Homo sapiens: one gene and its partners. The protein of the gene in region 3 purifies or fractionates together with the protein of the main gene of each other region. This does not show direct contact. Each region holds a gene or a part of one and is shown on either strand. Other genes may lie near its edges.

Region 1 (2,695 bases), on a different chromosome or scaffold from region 3:
CAACATAAAAAGAGCAACATGATTTTTTTCTGGAACTTGACATGCTGATTTAAAAGTTTAAGGCAAGAAAATTCTGAAAGTTAGGGAGATGACAACCATACCACATCTTAAAATACATTAAAATAAATGTTAATAGTTTGGTCCCATTACTATATGACAAGAATGGCAGAATAATGGAATACAATAAAAGCCCAGAAATAGAACTAACTAAAAATGAAAATTTACCATATGACAAAGGCATTGTGTCAAAACTGTGGTGAAAGATGGACTGTTTGGTAAATGATTCTGGGATAAATGGCTAGCTTTCTGGGGAGAAATATTATATCCCTACCTATAAGTGCACATCTGTAAGTATATGCTGTGCACATATAGAGTGTCTGAAAGAATGCATATGAACTTTTTACTTGTTCCACAGACTAAGACAATTGAGGATCAGAAATGTAAGATTTACTTTTTATTTACATATTCATTTTTTTTAAACCATGTATAATTAGTAACCCTTTCAATGAACAAACTTGTTAACATTTTTGATTTAGTTGGCAGGCAGTTGGAGTTTGACCTTTTGAAGCATTAACTTGACTGACTTTTCTGTGTTTCTCCCCAGTGACCTGTGCATGGATTGTGCCTTGCAGCTGGAGACCTGCCCATTGTGTCGTAAAGAAATAGTATCTAGAATCAGACAGATTTCTCATATTTCATGACACATGTGAAGAGGCATCGTGGACTTTTTTCTACTCAATTCCAGCCAATGTTGAAAAGAAAAAGAAAAAAAAAACTCTCTAATCAGTTGTACACACATTGAAACTTATAGCCATGGCCAGATTTTATGCTAAAAATGGTAGTTTGTCAAAGACAAAATTCTCTTAGAATCTAATCCAACTTGCCAGCCCTGAGAAAATCCCTTTTAAGGCCAAGGAAAGCTGAATGCTAGCAGCCAGGCCTGTGGTACTTCCATGAGAAACCATAGCAGACAATGCCCTCCCAAGTACTGAAATCACACTGGAATCCCCCTTGTTGGGTTCATTTGATTGTTTAACACAGGATGTGTTGTGTCATTCTGAAGTTTTTATTTGGGGCAGAAGTCTTTATGGAGATGTAAATGACAGCGTTTCTGGGTTATGCATAACTTCTCACTGGTCAGAGACACCGGTGTGTCAAGCATGGATATTGCATTGCAAGACTTGAATCTATAAAAATTAGAATCACACAGTCAGTACTACAAGCAAAACAGAGAACCTGAAAGAAGGTGCACAGACTGTAAGAAAAAACCCAAGTTTGTGATATTTCAGTGATTCCAAAGAACATTCTAGGTTTTTTGTTTGTTTTTTTGTTTTTTGGGTTTTTTTTTTTTACTGCAGAAAATTGGTGGTATTTTCACATTCATAGTGTTTCTATCCAATTTCAGTACCCACATTTAATGAGGAAAAAATGTTTTACCAATGAAGGAGGAATTCTTAAATTAGCTGTAATGTTAGGTTGGAGAAAATTTGGTATTTAGGGTATTTTCAAGGTACCATCAAATCAGATTTCTGTTTTTTTGTTAAAAAAAATTTTTTTAATCAGTATTGTTTTTACAAGTAATATACTTTGAAACTCTTGAACTAATAGTCTCAAAAACTCTAGAGGACAGTCTGAGAACACGTATTTCTATTGTTCTAAATAAATACATGTTTTTGAATAGTTCAATCATGAATTATTGACTATGTCTTCATCAAAAGTGTTAATCCCTCTCAGGGTCTCTGGTGAAGACCTTCAAGAGTTTGGTTTTTTCTCCCAGGAAATTGGAAGGTAGAATTGTAAATTCATAGAACTTCTTTTATAATGGTGTACCTCAGCAGCTGCCTTTCAATTTATGCCAAGTCCTTACAGAGTTTATACTTGAATAGTAAATATGTCTTCTGAGTTTTACAGTGTCTTAAACTCAATGCACATTTTTTTTTCTTCTTTTTCCACCCCTTCTTGTTTGTAGTTCATTATACCTGTCCTATTACAGAACTGATTTCCTTCCTGGCTGTACATGTTGGGGTGCTGGATTTTTTTCCGTGTCTTTAGTCTTCCATAAATCCACACACACACACACACACAAAAAATATATATATATATAAATATATATGTAGGATACATGTTCTCTTCTTTAGCTTGTGGTGAATACAGTAATTTGCATTGAAGAATAAAACATCTGTTGCCTTTTTTGACTAAGATTTCACAACTTTCATTGGTGTATACTGCTAAGGTTCCAAGACATTATACTCTCAGACTTTAAGGGCTACTTTTGGGAGTAGGAGAGAATCAAGTATTAGAATTAAGAATAAGGCCACTTACTCATCCAGCAGATTGTTATTGAGCACCTAATATGTGCTGGGCACTGTGCCTATGTGGCATACAAAATATGCTTGTAGAGCTTATGTCTAATAAGCTTGTCTAATTATTGTCTATTATTATGTCTAACAGTAATTTGGAAGTGGTCCAGCTGAGACTAAAGGTAGTCTGTACATTTAGTAGAGAGAGGGAAAAATAGATGGAATTAATAGATAATTTGCGAGGCAAAGGAATGCAGGAGCCTAACAGCTTTCTAAAAATCTACCCTTGAAGTTTGTTCCTAAGGTGGGGAGAAGACAATATATTTGTGTTTATTGTAACAGATTTTTAGTGGAAAAGAATAGGGTCCTAGAGAGAATGAGGGGGACCTAATTTA
Region 2 (7,054 bases), 1.3 Mb from region 3:
CGTCAGTTTTAATTTTGTATATTCCATTCCTAGTTTTCTTGAAATGTGTGTGTGTTTGCAGAATTACAGTATTAGTACATATACCATTTTTTACTGGGTACATTTTATCGTAAGTAAATTTTACCTCAATAAAGTTAAAATCACTTGTACACATACTATTTTATTATGCTTTATTTTACTTAATGCTTTCTAATGTTGCTATATAATTTTACTATAATACTGCATAATTTATCAATCTTACACACTATAATCATTCCCCTCTTGTTGGAAATTTAGGCTATTCCTAATATTTCACTATTGTAAATGACACTACAATAAATATCTTTGAGGTTGTATGTGCTTTATTTTGTTATTTCTTAGGGTAAATTTCTAGTTGTGAGATTAATTCCACTCTACATTTATAATGTCTGCTAAGTATGAAGGCAGTCTTTTACTATGGCCTTTTTAGGTCTGGGAAGAAGCAGAGAATACCATTTTACTTTTGTTTTGTAAATAGAATAAAATAATAAGATTTATGGTAATATTTTTCCCACTATAAAGTGCCCATTTTGTCTCTCTCTGCCCCCCCCCCCTTACCTTAAAAAGAAAAAAAGTATTAATCTTCAGTTTCATTTGCCTATAAATTAGATAAAGTGTTTGAGGCTGTTGGCAAATACCTTTCTGAGGAACAAAAAGGGTCTTCTAATATCCAGTAAGGTCTCTCTTTTTATTTTCCTGTGATTACTTTATTAGTAACCCCTACCTCACTCTGAAATTTTCATAACCAAATATGGAGGCTTGTTACAGAGTTTGTAGTATAAAGTCTGTGTGGGCTTAGAGATATTTTAAGTTAAGCCATGCCCTGAACAACTTTACTTGAGAAAATTCATTTCATTCTGAAATTTCAAGTCAAAATGTTATTCTCCTTTCACTATATTCCAAGTTCTTTTATTTTGTGCTGCCCCTATATTAGATGAGCTGTGTGGCTTGATAGCCATTGCAGACACAGTGAAGCCTGAAGCAGAACTGGCTATCCATATTCTGAAATCTATGGGCTTAGAAGTAGTTCTGATGACTGGAGACAACAGTAAAACAGCTAGATCTATTGCTTCTCAGGTAATTGATAGGGGTATGTGATAACTTCTAATTATTGATATACATTTTATATCTTGCCTTCAAATGCTAAGAAATTTACATTACCTACTATTTTCATTATCACTGAGTAGTCCTATCTGGTTCCTTCAAGAAAATTTACCATGCTTTGCTGGAAAGACTTTGGGCTTTGTGTGTTGCTGTTATACGTAAAAAGGTATTTGCTTAGTTCATGGGATGCTTGCGTGACACTGTACACCAATTTCTGTTGATGTGCCCTTTGAAATGTTGCTCATATTCTTTACCAGTGCTGCCAACCTAAGCTGGGCTCTCCTGATCTCATGCCTGAAACACAGCAATAGCTCCACACACATCCCTCTCTAGTCCATCCTAAATACCACCACCAATGGAACTATTTTCCTAATGCACCACTTTGACATACCATTTTTCTGCTCCTGACTCCCACATCTGCCTTATCTCTAAAATTTTTCAATCTTTTTAACTTTGGAATGCCTTCTCCCCTCTTCTAATAAATAATGCAAGTAATCTTTTAATACATTCTTTTGTTTCTTTTTTTTTTCTTGGGACGGAGTTTCGCTCTTGTTGCCCAGGCTGAAGTGCAGTGGCGCGATCTCGGCTCATCGCAACCTCCACCTCCTGGGTTCAAGCGATTCTCTTGCCTCAGCCTCCCGAGTAGCTAGGATTACATGCATACACCACCACGCCCGGCTAATTTTGTATTTTTAGTAGAGACAGGGTTTCTCCATGTTGGTCAAGCTGGTCGTGAACTTCGGACCTCAGGTGATCCGCCCGCCTCGGCCTCCCAAAGTGCTGGGATTACACGTGTGAGCCACCGCACCCGGCCTATTAACACCTTCTTATGTAAAAAATACAGAAGGATATAAAGTAAAAATGTCCTCTTTTCCCCATGCTCCCCATTCAGTCCTACTGCCCCTCACACTGCCACTTTTTCATATGCATATATGTGCATATACAGAGTACATATACAGTATAATTCTGGTCTTTTCAACATCAGATCATTTTGAACAGATTGTTCAGTAGTTTGCTTTTTTTACGTAACAGTATACTTTGGAGCTTCATCCATATCTGAACATAAAGTTATTTTGGCCGGGTTTGTTGGCTCACGCCTGTAATCCCAGCACTTTGGGAGGCTGAAGTGGGCAGATCACATGAGGTCGGGAGTTTGAGACCAGCCTGGCCAGCATGGTGAAACCTTGTCTCTACTAAAAATACAAAAATTAGCCGGGTGTGGTGGCGCATGCCTGTAATCCCAGCTACTCAGGAGGCTGAGGCAGGAGAATCGCTTGAACCAGGAGGCGGAGGTTGCAGTGAGCCGAGATGGTACCATTGCACTCCAGCCTGGGTGACAGAGCAAGACTCTGTCTCAAAAAAAAAAAAAAAAAAAAGTTACAAAGTTACTTTATTCTTTCTATACTGAATTCCATGGTATGGATGTATCATAATTTATTTAACCATTTCCCTAATGATGGACATTTGGGTGGTTTTGAAAATTTTCTTTTTGCAAACAAGGCAATAATAAACATCTTTGGACATGTATCTTTCTGTACATGTGCAAGCCTGTCCAAGATAGAGCTAGACATGGAATTGCTAGACCAAATGATGCTCACATTTTGATAGATGCTGCCAGATGCCCTCCAAAAAGAGTTACAATTTACACACCAGCCACTGGTGTATAAGAGAGCTCATTTCTCCACATCCTTGCTATCACTAGATATTATCAGTCTTTTAAAATGTGGACATCTTGTGGGTGAAAACTGATGGCTTGTTATTGCTCAGTTATGTTTCACGTACTCATTATTTTTTAAATGAATTGAGTTTATTTTCATCACATAGGTTGGCATTACTAAGGTGTTTGCTGAAGTTCTACCTTCTCACAAGGTTGCTAAAGTGAAGCAACTTCAAGAGGAGGGGAAACGGGTAGCAATGGTGGGAGATGGAATCAATGACTCCCCAGCTCTGGCAATGGCTAATGTGGGAATTGCTATTGGCACAGGCACAGATGTAGCCATTGAAGCAGCTGATGTGGTTTTGATAAGGGTAAGTGCCATGGCTTGACCTTTGAGGAGTATGAGACTGCCCTATGTGGTCAATGATAATGTCATAAAGTATATTGAGCATAACAATTCTGTCTTAAGTTCCATGCTATCAGCCATTAAGAGTTTAAGAATATGGAGTGGGATTATGGGAAGTCATGCTAATTTACCCCCTGACTTTCTCAACCCAGCTCATAAGCAAGTGAGAATTATAAGTTTCTGAAGTGAAGAAGAAGATTTAAGAATGGATTCGGAATAAAATGATCTTCAACAAATAGTTGCTGAGATTATTTTAAGTAGATTTAATCATAGTACCAGCATACACCCCTAAAAGTGTTTTCAGAACCCTGAGGAAAATTTTTGAAAAACACCTTCGGAAGCTGAGTCTAAGTTTTAGCATTATCTGAGATTTGTAATTAATTCACATATTACCCTAAGGTAGACGTAATCTTCAACATACACAGTATCAAATGTAAAAGTTACTGGTTAAGTTAGAGTCTCTTACTAATATCACAAATATTTCTGTTCTTAGAATGATCTTCTGGATGTAGTGGCAAGTATTGACTTATCAAGAAAGACAGTCAAGAGGATTCGGATAAATTTTGTCTTTGCTCTAATTTATAATCTGGTTGGAATTCCCATAGCTGCTGGTATGTGACTCTTAACTAGTACTGCTTTTTCCACTAAAGTTATTAGAGACCTAACATATTGGAAGCCTGTCTTCTTACTATTAGTTTTGAGCTTAGTTTTTGTTTGTAGCCTACTGGTATGGTGAGAGGTAATGTTAAAATCAATCATTTTAATTTTCAGTAATGTTTGTTATAGCTTAAGAATATATAAGCATTCTGACAGATTTATTTTTTTCCCTCCAACTTTTTTTTTTTTTTTTTTGAGACAGAGTCTCACTCTGTTGCCCAGGCTGGAGTGCAGTCATACAATCTCGGCTCACTGCAGCCTCCATCTCCTGGGTTCAAGCAGTTCTCCTGCCTCAGCCTCCTGAGTAACTGGGACTATAGGTGCCCGCCACAACGCCCAACTAATTTTTGTATTTTTAGTATAGACGGGGTTTCTCCATGTTGGCCAGGCTGGTCTCGAACTCCTGACTTCAGGTAATCCACCCACCTCGGCCTCCCAAAGTGTTGGGATTACAGCTGTGAGCCACCACTCCCAGCCTTCAACTTTGTATTTTGAAAAATTTCAAACTTGACACCTGTAATCCCAGCACTTTGGGAGGCTGAGGTGGGCGGATCACCTGAGGTTGGGAGTTCAAGACCAGCCTGACCAACATGGAGAAACCCCGTCTCTACTAAAAATACAAAATTAGCCGGGCGTGGTGGCACATGCATGTAATCCCAGCTACTCGGGAGACGGAGGCAGTAGACTCGCTTGAACCCAAGAGGTGGAGGTTGTGGTGAGCCAAGATCGCGCCATCGCACTTCAGCCTGGGCAACAAGAGCGAAACTCCGTCTCCAAAAAAAAAAAAAAAAAAAATTCATACCTCCAAAAACATTGAAAAAAATGGTACAATAAAAATCTGTATGCCTTTCACCTAAACTCACCAACTGATGGTATTTTGCCACATTGCTTCATCTCTTTCTGCATATATTTGCACAGAGATATGTATTTGTTTGCTTATTAATTTTTTTCTAAATAGATTTACCTTTAATCTGACTACCCAAACCCAACACTGTTTGCAAGATTAATTCATGGAGCAAATGATTTTTAAAGAATTATACAAGTATTTTCCTCTAGTCTTTTTTTTACTCTACATCAGTTTTTGTCTTGTTACATAGTTGTGATTGTAGCTTATGGAGAATTTTCTGCTCTTCACTTAATATTCTATTATAGTCAGCTGGTATTTTTTTTAGGTTGAGAGACCAGATGACAGAGAGAGTGAACAAAGCAATATAACTGAGAAAAAAGAATTTAGAGTTATTTAATAAGCATCTGAGAATCTCCTAAACTTAGGGACCTGGTAGGAGTTAGTAATGATGACATAAAAGAAATAAGTATTGTTTTCTTCTTGTTCTCTCTGGTTTGAGGGCCAAGGAAAGACAAGAAATGACATGAGAACAATTACAAAACTGTTTATCAGCAAGGACACACAAATACTGAGAGAACAAAGAACAAAAGAACAATCTAAGTCCAGTAAGATTAATTCATGGAGCAAGTGATTTTTAAATAATTATACAAGTAATATATGATCACCATAGAAAAAGTAGAAAAATATAAAGAAGCACATAAAAAGTTAAAAGTATGAGTCTATTTCATCCTCATCATGTGAGCAAACATTCTTATGTCTGTGAAAACCAAGTGTGGATGAGTTTGTAGAACATGAACTCCCATACGCTATTGGTTGGATTTTGAATCACTACAGCCACTTTGGAGAACAGCTGAGGAATATCCACGTAAAGTTGAAGATGTGCCCATGTTATGACCCAGTAGTTTCACCCCTAGGTATATACCCCACAGAAACTCTCAAACATGGACACGGGGAGACATGTACAAGAATGTTAACAGCAACACTCTGTTAGTGAAAAAAATGGCAACAACAAAAATCTCTACCACCAAGAGGATAAATGCTGAAGAAGTATCAAACAAAGAAATGATTTGTATGTATGTTAGAAACACATTAATAATCTGTTTAGTATTATCTACTCTAACTAATCCATACTTGTTTCTTAGGAGTTTTTATGCCCATTGGTTTGGTTTTGCAGCCCTGGATGGGATCTGCAGCAATGGCTGCTTCATCTGTTTCTGTAGTACTTTCTTCTCTCTTCCTTAAACTGTAAGTATGATAGCTTGCTCACATTTGTATTTTGTATTCCTGTTATCATCTAGTCATTCTTGGTAGGTTTTATTCTTGTATTGATCAATGATAAGCCCAAACCATTCTTAATGAGAATTATTATTAGCGGCCGGGCGTGGTGGCTCACACCTGTAATCCCAGCACTTTGGGAGGCCGAGGTGGGCAGATCACCTGAGGTCAGTAATTTGAGACCAGTCTGGCCAATATGGTGAAACCCTATGTCTACTAGAAATACAAAAATTAGCTGGGCATGGTGGTAGACACCTGTAATCTCAGCTACTCGGGAGGCTGAGGCAGGAGAATCACTTGAACCTGGGAGGTGGAGGTTGCAGTGAGCTGAGATCGTGCCACTGCACTCCAGCCTAGGCAACAGAGTGAGATTCCATCTCAAAAAAAGAAAAGAATTATTATTAGCTAACAGTAATAATTAGCTATGTAATTGTTACTTCGTGTACTTTATGCATAGCAACCACAAGCACTGAGTGGGATAAAATATAGTGCACTAATTCTGAGAAGTAGGGTTTCTGATGATATAACTCCACACAATTCGTTTCAAGCTATTTTCCTACCAGTGATCACCTTTATACATTTCATACCAAAACTAAGTGTGGATGAGCAAATCTTCTTTCTTTTCTGCATGTAGCGAGCATCTCATTTACTTTTGGTTATTTGAAACTAGCATACTTTTGCATATGTCCAGTTACAGGAAACCAACTTACGAGAGTTATGAACTGCCTGCCCGGAGCCAGATAGGACAGAAGAGTCCTTCAGAAATCAGCGTTCATGTTGGAATAGATGATACCTCAAGGAATTCTCCTAAACTGGGTTTGCTGGACCGGATTGTTAATTATAGCAGAGCCTCTATAAACTCACTACTGTCTGATAAACGCTCCCTAAACAGTGTTGTTACCAGTGAACCTGACAAGCACTCACTCCTGGTGGGAGACTTCAGGGAAGATGATGACACTGCATTATAAAAGGCCATGGAGAGTGCTGCCAGTTTAACTTGTCATGCACTGACACAGCATTCATGATGTTACCTTCACTTTTCAAAATATTGTAGAAGGATTTTTCTCATGCTCTTATATTAGGGATTCTA
Region 3 (7,638 bases):
TGAAACACTTGATTTTGAAGTGTAGCATTTGCGATAGCTAGACACAAAAGTTGTCTGTGTGGTAACAGTGACTGTAATATTTTGTTAAATCAATATTTTGCTTCGGGATTGAAACAAGAAAGATCCAAAGCAAACAAGCAACTGATTGTGCCCTTCCCAGGGCAGTGGACTCCAATCTTTCTAATCCCATTTTTGTATGTCACAATACATCCTAAGCAGCATTGTTACTCAAGGACTGAATAAATGAAGTAAGCAAATCTAGGCCCTGATCATTAAAGAGTAAATCATTCAAACGTGTATATAAATCGAATTGTTTTAGTCTTTTAGGTCATTAGCTCTTTTTCAGGACAACTACTGCAATGTTTATCAGAGCTAACTAACCTTAAATTCATTTGGTGAAAACAAATGCATAGATTTCAAGTTAATGCAGAAGATGAAAGGACAATCATTTGTTAAATGTTTATTTTTCCAAAAATATTTTTCTTTGAAGGTCAAAGAAATTTGAGATTCCCATTTTCTTAACTAAATTTATTTAAGTTCAAACCCTCCACTAATTAGTACTCTATAAACCTTGAAGGCTTTTCTGTGTCCCAGTAATTTTCAGGAACTTTTAATTATTTTTATTAAAAAAAAAAACCTAAACTAAGATTAGCACTACAAAGATAGAACTATAAATTTTGATTTGGAATTACTGTACAATAATCTAGAACTGGAGACTTAAAATTATATTTTAGATGACTAAAATGAGTTTCATAAAGATAAAGTAACTTGCTCATAAGTCACATAATAGCTTAATTTGAAATTCTAAGAGAAATAAATTTATTTTTTCTTGCTACTGAGACATGAGAAGAACAGTTTGCACTGTAATTTCATTTATTCTTTCAATAATTCAGGAAGTTTATTAAGCAAGGCCTAAGTATTAGAATTTCAATTTCATAAGATGTTACATCCTAGAAATAAGGATTTTTTGTTTTCATTTACATTTATTGGACTTTAGGTTGGTGTGAGCCATCAATTACCATAGCTAATTTCTCTTGGAACTCTTTCGAAGTGATTGTACACTATGTCTGACATCATATTTGTCATGCTCAACCTCTAATGAGCTAGCTGATCAATGTATTACAACACAATATGTCAAATATTATTATCAGTGTCCTATAGTGGCCAGGTAAGGATCCTGTTAAGTTTTCTCCAAAACGTAACAGCAAAGTATAATCAAAGTGCAAATGCTCAGTTTTGCTTATTCCTCATCGCACCCACAATCCTGGCAGAAGTATTGCTTGCATATTAACTGAATCTATCTACAAGTCATGAAATGCTTGGCGGTGAAGAAAAAAAAAAAAAGGATTACTGTGTGGCTATATTTAACTACTGGCCTCTAATTAGACCTCCCAAAAAATCTGACCATGTTTAACCTACAAACTAAGCAGGAGAACAATTACATATTTGACCTCTGTCATTTAATCAAAACCTCAACAATGCAAGAGGGTGTTACTTTTGAGCTCTAAAATGTATAACACACAAAAGCTAGTTTTACTGCAGGATTTAATATTGAAAGTTTCCATAATAAAAAGCTGGATAAGCACATTAACATTTCAAATTGTGTGTACAATCAACTTTTACTACATGGATTCTCATTTAACTCAAAGGACTTTTTATATCTCCACTTTGAACACAGAAGTTAAAACTATATAGAGAACAAGACAAGTCAGGACAGATCTGCAAGCGCCAACACTTTCCAGATTTCATAGAACACGAAGACAATACTATTGCCCTTTAAAATTGAGATTATACTGAGGAGTAGTATACGAACCCTGAAAACATAGTAGGTGTTTAAAAGAAGTAGAAATAGGACTAAATAAATAATGGATAACATTTTGGGGAAGAGCTTCCCCAGTTCCTGTCAAAGCTAGTAGTTTAAATTACAACACTGGACCTGCTTCAGATCTCTAAATAGAGGGAAGGGGATGTTGTTCAACAAGAAAAAAATTTAAAAATAATTGAAAAGTATCCTCAAATTTATTTTTACAAGAGAAGAGTGTTTTCTTTAGGAAATACCACTCTAAAAATATACAAGGCTCTTGCAGTAAAAGGGCACAGTGAACACCCAACACTGGCATTAAGATCCACCTCAATTTTGACAGCTTCTTTATCTAATGTTTAAAGCCACCTATGACCAGAGAGAAACGGAAAATATTCGCGCGCTCAAGCAGACCACTTGCCCCAACCCATACTGCTTGGAGTTAAAAGTGCCCTTTGCTGCTCACCCCACCTCCACGAACACTCAGAGATCATAGAAAGATTTAGTCTTAGAACTTCATCCACACCAAAAGGAAAGAAAGAAATGTTAAATCTCCCGGTCTTGCTCACCCCCCTGTGTCCCCTCTGTCCCTGGGGAGACTATGCGCGCCCCTGGAGGTGGGGACTGGGCGACATGCCCCTCCTTGATCCCCAGGTCCCTACACGTTACCCAAGAGACAATGACAAGGAGTCCCAGGGCATCTCCTCAAACTCTCTCTGACCTCCCTCCAGGACAGCTGGTGTGAGCTGGAACAGACAGAACATGGCACGACACGCGGGAATGCAGAGTGACAGAGGGTGCGGTAAGCAGAAGGTGCCGCAAGGAGACAGAACCGAGGCGACCGGGTAAACCCCAGAGACAGCGTAAGAGGAGCAAGAGGGGCCCTCCCAGGGAAGCTACATTTTCTCCTCTGCTACCAGCCTTCTTTCTTTCGCCCACCCCTCCCCCATCCCGCCCTGGGACAGCTACCTTGCCGGTCAGTATCTGAGTTCTGACCGTGCGGCTCAGGAGGGCCTCCACGTCTTGCCGCGCCTCCTCCTTTTGCACGGCGGTAGGGGTATTGAAGGCGATTTTCACCATAGTGAATCTTCGGGCTGCGCGGTAAGGCGCTGCTGGAATCAGCGTCCTGGGCTGCAGACTGCAAGAGGAGATCCTGTTAGCCCAAACAGCACTTACTTTATCTTCAGTCTAACACTACTGCAAGCCGAGGTCTGGGATACTTATGACGCAGTCCCAAACTGGGGGGAGACCGTGGGCGGGCCCAGGGAGGTGCCTAAAGGGAGGAGCGAGAGGGGGCCCAAAAGGGGCCCAAGTGCCTGAGTTGGGGGTTTGCGAGGTGGCGCGGATTTGCCACTGGGGGAAGAGCAGGGGAAGTGGAGTCCGTGGCCGGCTCAGGCTAAACGTGCCTCACCTGCACCTCAGGCATACTCCCACCCACTCTCTGCAACTTCAGATAAGAGCAAGACAGGAAGGAAGCCTGCTGTGTCGTGTCTTTCTGCCTCTGTCCAGGCCACAATAGCCCCTGACTATGACTGTTTTCTCAAACTTGGACCTGACTCCCCGCAGGGCCTGGGACTGTAGCTTGGCAGTAACTCAAACTTCCTTAGTTCTGGACCCACCCAGGCCCCCAAAGCGCCATTCTACAAAGGTTCTGTTCCTTGATAATAATATCTTCCTTTTAAAGGACACCTAGAATCCTGTTTATAGTTACCCAGTTGATTCTTTCAACAAATTGTTATTTTTTTTATTTGCTTGCTTGTGTTTTGAAATTTTAATATCTCAACCTAAGGCGATGCTAGATCAGAAAGATAGGGCTCCTGCCTCCCCAACACCCCATTTTGTAGATAAGACATGATGAGACAGAGAAGGGTGGAAAGCTTACAATAAATTCCTGAAATAATCTAGATTTTTCACTCTTCCAGGTCAGGGAAACCAGTGTAAAGTCTCAACCCAGAGACTGTTTCTGTTCAGCCACCAGCTGTGAAACCTGCAGGGGGAAAAAAAAAACGTGTGTGTGTGTGTGTGTGTGTGTGTGTGTGTGTATAAGTACTTATGTGTTCAGGAAGGTGGAGGTGGAGGTGGAGGATACAAAATTTAGCCAGATGCTAATACCGATCTAATGGAGGAAAAAACAATAACTTCAAAGGGGTTGAGTTAGAAATTATTCTTGGAACATTTACATGTGCAGCCAGTATAATCAAGCTGTTTCTTCACAGTCAGTTTTTCCAGGTTAGTGATACTGATAGAGAACCTTACCAAGTACAATGCAGGCTTTGGAGGTTGCTGACTGGGGTAGCACTGGTACACAGTTTATAAATAGTCCCGCTGCAGAAGACAGGAGAAAGGTCTGTTGTGTGAAGACAGTAGCACTTACCAAAACAACAGCATCAAACAAAACAAAACAAAGAAACAGCTTTTGCTACAGAATTTACCATCTACTCATCTACCTAAGAAACGGACTTAAATATGTTGAGTCGCCACCCCTTCATCCGAAAAATTCCAACTTGGCGTTTTTCCCACTGATGTTTCCTTGACTCAGAAGCCTGTCTCCTGTTTCCACTGTGGGACCTTTGTGAAGACAGCATTCATTTTCTTGGATAGGCCACAGATGGGAAGGTGGATGGAGGGGAACAGCGGGGAGCCTGTGCCTTACTTAGGGCCAGAATCTTAAAAAGCAGGATGTTTGAGTTTGCTTAGAAATATTGGCATCCTATGTTCTTTCACTTATTATTGCTCAAGATTGACCATTATAATTTAATATTTATCAGGCAACCTTTAGTGTAAGCTGAGGAACTCTCACCTTCCTAGAATGTTTCTCTTTACAGTTGCCTTCCGCTTGCAATCACCTTTGTGACATCTCCACTATGGTCTGTGCTAGTCTGGCCCGGTGATCCACACTCATGGTTGCTCTTGCACATTTACTTAGTAAGTGCAAGGTTCTGGGCGGGATTGTGATGTATTATCTTAGTATATCTTTCCTGAAATGGGGTCGGGCAGAAGGAGAGGGATTCTTTTCATTTTTTCAGATGAATAGATCAAAATTATGATAACGATCAAGGGAGTATGTGATCAATTTCTGGGTACATAATATTGAGCAAGTCACTTCGTCTTCTCAGATGTCAGTTTCTTCATTTGTGTCCTGTTGCTGTGAGGATTATTTGGTATAATGCAAGAGGAAATACCTTTTAAATTATTATGAAAAGGATAGGGAGTGAAATGTTTTGTTATCCTGGGATTGTTATTTTATTCTGTAACATACGCATGTTTCAAGCTTATAAGAATTATTCTTCTTATTATTTACCCTTCAACCATTCTTAACATTCTAGAACTGCTTAAGATCCCACAGTACCTGAATATAGGTCTTACTGGAAAAGGTTAAACTTCTAAGAATAGTCACATAAATTGACATCTAACTTCTCTTTTGGATTTTGAAGAATTTGGCCATCTCCTATTTGTTAACAACGCATCCTCTTTTAGGTATGGGTCTTTGCTACCGTTGGACATATGTGATGCAGGCACAGTCTCACATTGGCAGATACCACAGTTTCCTTCTCAATATATAAAATAATACTTGTGTTAGGATCATAGAATAGCAACAACACCCATTGTCTGTATCCATTCCAGGAAGGTTAAATAGTTCCTGAATATTTTTTGAACTGCAAAATATAAGCTGCCACTTGCTCCTAGGGTTGAAATCAGTAATGAACACACTTCCGTCTACTAAAAAAAATGATTCTCCGCTAGGCTCTTTCTTGTATTCTCTCCTTCCCAGTAACAATTTCTTTTTTTCTAGAATCAATTTCTCTCACTTTCTTGTCTTTGGAAAATGGGGATCTGGCTGCTATGCTGATTCTAGCTCACATTGTTAACTACATCTGAATGCATACCATTCAAGTTTATAAATGACTTCCCTGTTCTCACATGCCAAATGATGACTAAATTATCATAAGTTGGTCTGAATGGAACATGGCATGTAATTGAATGCCAAGCAATGATGTCAACTTTCTTTGAATGATCTTCTGAAATTACCACAAATGCAATCACATAAAGCTAAACCAATAAGGGTATCTATAATACCATTTCACCCATTAACTCATGTATTCATTAATCAAATATTTACTGAGGATCTACTATGTGCCTTGTGCTGTGATTGGCATAAGAATACAGTGGTGAGCAAAACAGATACACTCTTGTCCTTACAGAGCGCATCATTACTATACCAATGGCAATGATGTACTTGTCGTGGGTTCTCCAGTTTTTGTAGTAGGAACACTGGGCTTATGCTGTGGAGTAGGATATAACAATTCTACAAACCAGCAGAATAGGTCCACCCACAGCCAATGCTACTAGGAATATTTAAATGACTAGCACATTTGCAATGGCTTCACATGCAGCACTCTATTTAGGAAGATTAATCTGACAGCAAATGTATTGGGAAACCAGTTGGGGGTGCTCGTCTATATTCCTGGTGACAGGTGGTGAACTATATTGATAATTGAAACACTGAAAACAAAAGAACAACTTCCAAAGAAGTCTAGGAGCCATTCTTTACAAGGCCTGCTGCTGGAATAAGTCATATGAAGGAGAAACATTAGAAAAAAAAAAGATTTTGTTTTGAATGAATGGGAATTCCAGACTGGGAAAATGGTAGTGCCCTTAATATGAAACATTTGTTGAACACAGTAAATGCCAGATTTCTGCGCTAAGCCCTTTAAATTGATTATGTCATTTAATCTTTACCACAACTCTGTGAAGTATTATTATATACTTCATTGCACTGATAGAGACACTGAATTTCCAAGAGGTTAGATAACTTGCTTAAGGTCAAATTCTAACCCAGGTAGTCAGTGTTTATATTCTTAGCCACTATATTGTCTTACTGCCACAAAAAGAAATGGGAAAATCAAGAAGAGAGCTGGTTTTAAAGCAGGAGAAAATAATCAGAATATTCTCTAGGGCATGAAGCATGAATCTCCTCCCCATACTGCAAACAGAAATTCCTGCTTAGAATTTTATTCAGGACTAACCACGTTTGAAACCTTCTTAAGACTTTCCCAGCCTACCCATGACTATAGGCTACTGATCCTAAAGCATATTTCTTCTGAGTTCTCCAGTTGCTTCTGTCAACAATGAAGCAGCTACACAGAGAGCTGGCCAGCCATCTGTTTCTGGGTATAATTCCAAAAGTTTGGTTTAGATCTTTAAAGAGCCAGGCTATTTTCCAGGTCCACTCTTTCCCTGTACACATAGCTTGATCCTGGGAGCAGAGCTAGTGCTCCCCAGTGAAAGTAATAGAAGGCATTTGCTTTCTGGAATAGATTATTGTTTCTCCAGGCCATTTAACGTTTTCTCTGTAGACTGAGTATGCTATGATAATAGGAGGATGTAACATTTTCTTAAATATGAGAAAAGATTCCATCATCCCATCACAATGATGTGGTTATATATTCGAGGTTGAGAAGTTGTGTGCCACCCTAATTTATAAAAATCACTTTGCTTTTTTGCCACATAGAACAACCAAGTACATCTGATAAAAATGTTTGCACTTTCAATGCACCTTTCTAAATTGTGTAAAATTTCTAATCTCATCTTAGACTATCTTTGGGGACTTTTAAAATAGCTATCTGAAAGGTCTTATGAGAACTCTAGTTCTGAGAAATGCAAGTGAGAAACTCAAATCTAGTGCCAGTAATGCTTTTGCGAATACCCAGTTGGTTCAGTTGCTCCATACTATAGCACCAAGTGATAGTAAGCTGTCTTTGTGACAGCTTCAGAGTTAGGTTCCCATTCAATAAAAGCACAGGCACTTGCATTTTTTATATATGATTGTTAAACCA

The links. The genes of interacting proteins can lie anywhere in the genome.
Region 1: the proteins of ITM2A (region 3) and RSPRY1 purify together in Homo sapiens (affinity purification with mass spectrometry; 2 studies listed by BioGRID and IntAct, with this or other methods). This does not show direct contact.
Region 2: the proteins of ITM2A (region 3) and ATP7A purify together in Homo sapiens (affinity purification with mass spectrometry; 2 studies listed by BioGRID and IntAct, with this or other methods). This does not show direct contact.

Annotation. Positions count from the first base shown.
Region 1 is NC_000016.10:57,238,275-57,240,969, forward strand, and holds the end of RSPRY1 (RING finger and SPRY domain-containing protein 1 isoform 1 precursor), read left to right. Parts: intron 1-604; coding exon 605-701; 3' UTR 702-2,195; downstream 2,196-2,695.
Region 2 is NC_000023.11:78,039,639-78,046,692, forward strand, and holds part of ATP7A (copper-transporting ATPase 1), read left to right. Parts: intron 1-952; coding exon 953-1,095; intron 1,096-2,946; coding exon 2,947-3,150; intron 3,151-3,678; coding exon 3,679-3,796; intron 3,797-5,831; coding exon 5,832-5,934; intron 5,935-6,655; coding exon 6,656-6,932; 3' UTR 6,933-7,054. UniProt on the Homo sapiens protein: ATP-driven copper (Cu(+)) ion pump that plays an important role in intracellular copper ion homeostasis.
Region 3 is NC_000023.11:79,364,335-79,371,972, forward strand, and holds the start of ITM2A (integral membrane protein 2A), read right to left. Parts: upstream 3,001-7,638; 5' UTR 2,882-3,000; coding exon 2,771-2,881; intron 1-2,770.